Linked DNA regions of Homo sapiens. The protein of the gene in region 1 purifies or fractionates together with the protein of each later gene. This does not show direct contact. Each region holds a gene or a part of one and is shown on either strand. Other genes may lie near its edges. The genes, in order: HSD17B12 and AFG3L2.

Region 1 (3,820 bases):
CCAGTTTCTCCACATCTTCACCAACACTTGTTATTTTCTATTTTGTTTGTTTTTTATAATAGCCATCATAACGGGTATGAAGTGGTATCTCATTGTGGTTTTGATTTGCTTTTCCCTGATGATTAGTGATATTGAGCATTTTTTCATGAGTTTATTTGGTCATTTGCCTATCACCTTTGAAGAAATGTCTATTCCAGTCCTTTGCATATGTTTAATAAAATCGTGTTGTTTGGTTTCTTGTCATTGGGTTGTAGGAATGATCTATATATTCTGGATGTTGTCCCATTTTAGATACATGATTTGCAAAGATTTTCTCCCACTTCGTGAGTTGCCATTTTATTCTGTCTTTAGTCTGCATAATATCTTTTTATTCACAAAAGTTTTTAATTTTGATGTAGTCCAGTTTATCTATTTTTTATTTTGTTGCTGGTGCTTTTGGTGTCAAATCCAAGAAATGCTTGCCAAATCCAGTGTCATGAAGCTTTTCCCCTGTTTTCCTGTAAGAGTTTTCTAGTTCTAGCTCTTTGATCCATTTTGAGTTAACTTTTATATACCTTTGAGTTTATTATGTAGCTAGCAGATATAATGCTGTGAAAACACAAAATATGAGAGAAAGCAAATATAGGAGTTTTGATGGTTGGCAATTTCAAATTAACCATTCTTCAATTGAAAGAAATAGTATTTCCATGCTCAGGCACTTTTAAAAAATGTCTTGGGAGAAGTTGCAATTTGTACCTCTTTGCTGCTCCTGCCTATCAGCTACCCCACCTCTGTGCACGTCTGGTGTTCATTGTGGCTTTCATTCCTGTGAGGCAAGTATTTCACTTTTTGTATCCTGAAGCCACAAATGATCGATCAAAATAATAATAGTGAATATTTGAGTGGATACTTTTCAGGTACAGTGCTAAACACTTTAATATGTATCATTTCACTGCATCTCATAACAATCTCATACAATGGTGTGATGATGATTATTATTATTTTTAATTGCAGAAATTGGGGCTTAGAGAGGGTAAGCCACTTGCCCATGTTGAACTGGGACTCAAATCTGGGTCTGTTTGGCACTAAAGCCTTTGTTCTTAACCACTAGGCTACTTGCTCCAGGCCTGTAAGTCAACATTGAACACTTACTGGATCCATCTGTGCTCAGGGAGTGATGGAACCAGAAGGTGGTTGGTTAGTTCCATTTCCTCCTTTATGCCTGTAGAGCATCAAGATGGGTGTAAATGTCATGTAGATGTAGCTTCTAAACCTTTTTATTGAGTAGATACTGGTGGGAGCTAAGTCACCTACTGTGAGATAGAATGGTAATGAAAGGAAGGGGGGATGACTGTTTCCTCATCTTCCAGGATCATCTAAGAGCCTGCTTCCTCTAAACCCCGACCTGAGCTTTCATCCAAGGGAAGCTTAGATGTCATAGCCACTTGGTGTTATTTCTGACTTGCAGCTTCCCATATGTATAGGTTTCATTCGGAAGGACATGTGTTCTAGAATCCTGGATTTTATACTAAATTACTGTACTCTCTTTTTCCCCTTTCCTTGACACCAGTCATTTTAATGTTAGTAATGCGAATGTTCTATGTAGAATATGTTGTATTTTAGTAACAAGGACACCAGTAAAATGTTCTTGAGAAGCTATTACATTCCATGAGAAGGTATTCATGGGAAGGTATCACATGCCAGGCAATGGTATACCATTTTCTTTCTGATGAATCTAATTGTAATTACACTATTAACTGAATAGTTTGTAAACACCTATTGCGACTAGGCAGGAATCCTAAAAAGGTCCATTGGTGATTGACTATAAGCAGAGTGACCAGAAGCTGTAAGTGTCTCAGTGACAGAAGGTAGCATTAGGCCTTGTGAACAGACAATCAATTTCTAAAATTCCGTTAATAAGCAAGACTGTCTCCTCTCTCATTCTCACAACTTGTTTCCCTCAAAGATCTTTTCTCCAGATTTTCCACCTAGTAATCTGGTGTGACTAGAAGCTACTGTAAAAACACATTAGCATTTGTCTTCTGAAATATTTTATTTTGATAAACTTTTGTTTTTCCCTAATAATGAAGTATAAACTGTCATTTCATCTGTCATTGTGTTTTGTCATATGAATTCATTCAAGGTTTAAACTTTGAATGAATTTGATGAAAAAATAAAGACTCAAATGTTTGTGAGGGAAAGCACAGTCGTCATTCTGTGTGAATACATCAGAATGTTGAAGTAGAATAGAAAGAGAACCTCTTATTAATTCTGATCAAAGGGGCAAAAAAAATGTAGTCTAAATGAAGCTCAGAGTTAAAAATGATTGGTTTTTCTTTGGCGGTGTTTATGCCCACAAATTTTTTGGACTAGGAGTATTTATCAGCTGATTCTGCCTCGTACTCCAGCCCACACATGTTTCCTGGGTGATCTTATTAAAATACAAATCAGATAATGTTGCTTTCCTTCCTAGTCCTCCAGTGGCTGCCCATAAGGTTTAGGATTAAATTCGAACTCCACAAGGCCATCTCCTTTCTTGCCACTCCATTGTCCTCCCCGACGTTCAGGCCAGAGTGGACATCCCAGTGTCTAGTACATGCTCTGCCCTCTGAAGTGCCCATGACTGGCTCCTCTGTTGGCATCCTTTCCCCAACTCCTCTCCAGTTCTTCTCACTGTATCTCCTCCCAGCCCTATTTGCACCTGAACCCTATGGCTGCTGTCCCTCTCTCAAGGCTTGGGCCACAGTTCCCCTGCCCTGGAAAGCCTTCTCTCAGCTCCTTGGCACATTTGGTTAGGCCTTTCTTTGGGCTCTCGTTGGAGCTCCTTGTATACCTCTGCCTGCTACTGTCTGGCCCTTCCCTGTCTCCCCACTTCCATGTATTCTCGAGAACAGGGCTTTTTATCTTATTTGTCTCTGTGTTGCTGGCGGCACTTGTTGTTTGTGGTAAACGGGAGACCCACCTTTTCCATGGCATCACAGAAAACTCTGGTTGTGCATGGTCAAGCTTTGTGGTACACAGGCATCTGTTTTGATGGCTTTTTGAGCTTCTTCTATTGCTCCCATATGCTCCTGGCCTTGAATTTTCAGCCTCTTTATCTGAATGGCTTCTAGACTAATGCTATGTGGCCATGTTTCCATTTTTTTCTAAGCCTTGCAAAGAATGCTATCTTTTTAGGTCTACCTCCGTGTGAATGTACATCAGATTGCTCTTTTGGGGAAGGAAGAGGGTATATTGTTCAAATTCTAGATTGTTTCAGATTACTTCTTAATATTTTTCTTTTGCATTTCTCTCCCCATCTTTCCCTCAACTTCTTAACTTCTTTCCTATAATTTTATAAGATCATTTAAAATTGCCTTCAAGAATTCAGATTTGCCATTATATAATCATTTCCTGGGAATGCAAAAACACAGTAACAACAACAAGTGATGTAAATGCCCTGGAGGTGAATGATGGGCCTGAGAGACTATTTGATTTTGAACAGAGGATGAGAAGCACATTCTCAAGGAAACCTTATCATAAGTGTAGTCTGTTGATGAGGACTGTTTGTTCTCATTACCTTATAATTAAAGTCCAGTCAAAAAAAAAAAAAGACACTTGTGTCTTTCAAAAGGCAAAATTATTATAAGTAATTTGACTGGCTAGGTAGTGGGCCCTAGCCCTGGGCTCCTTCTGTCTACCCTGTACTGACTAGCAGTTAATACTGAGCAAGCAGGAAGTAGCTAAGACTAAGACTAAATCCTAAAACTATACCTCTTGAACTCTTATTCTGCAAAATTTTCATAAGCCTTCTGTTTTTAAAAAAATTATTTGGAAATAATTTCAAGTCTACAGAAAAGTT
Region 2 (3,820 bases), on another chromosome or scaffold:
CAGCCTCGGCCTCCCACAGTGCTGGGATTACAGGCATGAGCCACTGTGCCCGGCCGATTTATTTCATTTCTTATTCAGAGAATACATAATATTCTCTGGTCAGGTGACTCTCTTTCTGTTTTTGCCAAGGTCCGAGACTTATTTGCCCTTGCTCGGAAGAATGCCCCTTGCATCCTCTTCATCGATGAAATCGATGCGGTGGGAAGGAAGAGAGGAAGAGGCAACTTTGGAGGGCAGAGTGAGCAGGAGAACACACTCAACCAGCTGCTGGTGGAGATGGATGGTGAGTGGTCAAGGCTTTTGTATCTTTAACTGCACTTTTGTTTTTTTTTTTGAGATGGAGTCTGACTCTGTCGTCCAGGCTGAAGTGAGTGGTGTGATTTCGGCTCACTGCATCCTCTGACCCCTGGGTTCAAGCGATCCTCCTGCCTCAGTCTCCTGAGTTTAAGCTGCACTTTTTATGCCTTTCATGTCCCCAAAATGAGAGTCCTTATTCCAATATTGAGTATCACAAACAAAAAAAAGCATTCCCTAAAACAAACAGCTCTTTTAAAAGGCCCTTTTATACTAATACAAATAATAGCAAAATATTTTTTCCTGGCAGCCTGCATAACTTAATATCGGTGTTAACATGCTGTTTGTGTCTGGTGTTTGAATAAGAGAAGAATTGGTGAAATGAGTCACAAAAGAATTACCATCTCATTCTCTAAATCATCACCATCTCTGAAGCATAAGGAAAATCTAAGCCTAACCAAGTGTGAATTTAGCAAATTTTGAATACTTTTTTACTAAGAGAGTAGCAGTCTTTCCATGCTAGCCAGCTTTTATTTCATTTAGGAAAGCCACTTCTCAGGATGTCATGTGTTCTTCCTGCTGGAAGATAAAAATGTGGATGCTTGGTTGTTTGTGCAGAAAGGGGAAGCACAGTGCCAGTACTGAACTGGCTTCAATGATGAAGCCAGGCATAGGGGCAGAATAAGGAGGTAGAAAGCCTCCTCCGTCCCGCGATGGTCAGCCCCTGTTGCGTTCACATTGGAGCACCACATCTGAGGGAAATTCACCCAGGAGCTCCTGCCGTGCCAGGGTCCTGAGGGTGAAGGGCCTGGGACCATGGCATTTACACTGAGAAATGGGCAGTAACACTGAGCCATTTGAGTGTGGAGAAGAGGTGGGAGGTAGAGGTTGATCTCTGCCTTCAGATAGGCAGTTGGTTGTCCTGTGGCCCAGGGTGTCAGACACATCCTTTGCCAATTTAATCTGATTTTAAGACATTTTTAAAATTGACATTATCTGTTAAATTTCTAGTTAAATTTAAATATTTGGTCATTTGTCTTTAGGAAATTTACTCGTAAAACTTTTAAGTCTAATATATGATTATTTTCAAGGACGAGCTGAATAGTAAAAAAATAATTCAAGTTTGTAACTTAAAAAACACTGGATAGGCCAGGGGCGGTGGTTCACGCCTGTAATCCCAGCACTTTGGGAGGCCCAGGCGGGTGGATCACCTGAGGTTAGGTGTTCGAGACCAGCCTGACCAACATGGAGAAACCCTATCTCTACTAAAAATACAAAAATTAGCCAGGTGTGGTGGGGCATGCCTGTAATCCCAGCTACTCGGGAGGCTGAGGCAGGAGAATTGCTTGAACCTGGGAAGCGGAGGTTGCAGTGAGCTGAGATCACGCCATTGCACTCCTGCCTGGACAACAGGAGTGAAACTCCGTCTCAAAAAAAAAAAAAACAAAAAACACTAGATAATGAATAGAAAATGTGTTTACTGTAGCTATGAATTTGCAGTGCTCATATGTTCCTGATGGTGCACTGTTGCTTTCTGCCTCTTGTCATTTAATAGTGTTTGCATTTTTGTTATCTTTCAGGTTTTAATACAACAACAAATGTCGTCATTTTGGCCGGCACCAATCGACCAGATATCCTGGACCCCGCGCTGCTTAGGCCGGGGCGTTTCGACAGGCAGATCTTTATTGGTGAGATGATGTTTGCTGGGGCAGGTCCAGTGCTCATGAGTGTAGGTGTGACTGTTTCAATATGATTTTCTTTTCCTTAAAAATGATTTCTAAAGGACCACCAGACATAAAAGGAAGAGCTTCTATTTTCAAAGTTCATCTCCGACCGCTAAAACTGGACAGTACCCTGGAGAAGGATAAATTGGCAAGAAAACTGGCATCTTTAACTCCAGGGTTTTCAGGTGAGTGGAAAATAACGAGGACCCTATTTAGAAGCATATTAAAATCAGTAACAGTTACCAGGTACCGGTTTACTTTCTTACCTTTTCACTTCTTTACTGTGGGCTTCCTAAGTTTATATTCTCATTTTTATTTTTTTTGAGACAGGGTCTCACTTAATTGCACAGGATGGACTGAGTGGTGTAATCATAGCTCACTGTAGCCTCAACCTTCTGGGCTCAAGTGATCCTCCTGTCTCAGCCTTGTTTGTAGCTGGGACTACAGGCATGTACCACCATGCCCAGCTAATTTTTTGATTTTGTGGAGACAGGGTCTTACTTATTATGTTGCACAGGCTGGCCCGAAACTCCTGGCTGTAAGTGATCCTCCTGCCTTGGCCTCCCAAAGTGCTGGGATTATAGGCATGAGCCACTGTGCCCGACTATTTTTACTTTGTTATTATGGGAAATTTCAAACATACACAGATTTTGAGGAAATGGTGTAATGAACCCATCTGTACCTGTCACCTAGTTTCAGGAACAATTACTAATTCACATCTGACCTTACTTTTATCTATACCCTCTTCTCTTTCTGCTTCCTCGGGAGTATTTTGTGAAAAATTCTTGACAGTGTATCATTTTTTTCTATAAATATTGTAGGAATTATTCCTAAGCGTTTTTTTAAAAGCTCTATTGAAATAAAGTTAACTAAAAATCACCCGTATAAAGTGTACAATTAATGGTTTCTAGTATATTTACAGGGTTGTACAACCATCACTATAATTTTAAAACATTTTGGGCTGGGCACGGTGGCTCACACCTGTAATACCAGCACTTTGGGAGTCTGAGGCAGGTGGATCACCTGAGGTCAGGAGTTCGAGACCAGCCTGGCTAACATGGCAAAACCCTGTCTCTACTAAAAATACAGAAATTAGCCGGGCATGGTGGTGCATGCCTGTAATCCCAGCTGTTCGGGAGGCTGAGGCAGGAGAATGGCTTGAACCCAGGAGGTGAGGTTGCAGTGAGCCTAAATCACCCCACTGCACTCCAGCCCAGATGAGAGAGCAAGATTCCATCTCAAGACAATCAAACTTTCTGTCTCTCTAGGTTTTTTTATTCTGTACATATTATATAAAAACGTGGTTTTGGCCAGGTACGGTGGCTCACACCTGTAATCCCAGCACTTTGGGATACCAAGGCAGGTGGATCACCTGACGTCAGGAGTTCAAGACCAGCCTGGCCAATGAGGCGAAACCCTGTCTCTACTAAAAATACAAAAATTGCCGGGCGTGGTGGTGGGGGTGCTGTAATCCCAGCTACTCGGGAGGCTGAAGCAGGAGAATCGCTTGAACCTGGGAGGTGGAGGTTGCAGTGAGCTGAGATCACGCCATTGCACTCCAGCCTGGGTGACAAGAGCAAAACTCCACCTCAAAAAAATAAAAATAAAAACATGTGGTCTTTTGTGCCTGGTTTATGTTCACTTAACATAATGAACAGGATTGATTCAAATTGTGGCAGGCATCAGAACTTCATTCCTTTTTGTGGCCAAGTAAATGTGCCATTGTTTGGCTGTTCCACATCTTGTTGATCCACCCATCAGTTGATGGCCATTTGGGCTGTTTCCACTTTTTGGCTATTATG

Evidence for each region.
Region 2: the proteins of HSD17B12 (region 1) and AFG3L2 fractionate together in Homo sapiens (co-fractionation; one large-scale study listed by BioGRID). This does not show direct contact.

Annotation. Positions count from the first base shown.
Region 1 is NC_000011.10:43,841,003-43,844,822, forward strand, and holds part of HSD17B12 (very-long-chain 3-oxoacyl-CoA reductase), read left to right. Parts: intron 1-3,820. UniProt on the Homo sapiens protein: Catalyzes the second of the four reactions of the long-chain fatty acids elongation cycle. This endoplasmic reticulum-bound enzymatic process, allows the addition of two carbons to the chain of long- and very long-chain fatty acids/VLCFAs per cycle.
Region 2 is NC_000018.10:12,349,468-12,353,287, reverse strand, and holds part of AFG3L2 (mitochondrial inner membrane m-AAA protease component AFG3L2), read left to right. Parts: intron 1-129; coding exon 130-283; intron 284-1,874; coding exon 1,875-1,982; intron 1,983-2,077; coding exon 2,078-2,203; intron 2,204-3,820. UniProt on the Homo sapiens protein: Catalytic component of the m-AAA protease, a protease that plays a key role in proteostasis of inner mitochondrial membrane proteins, and which is essential for axonal and neuron development.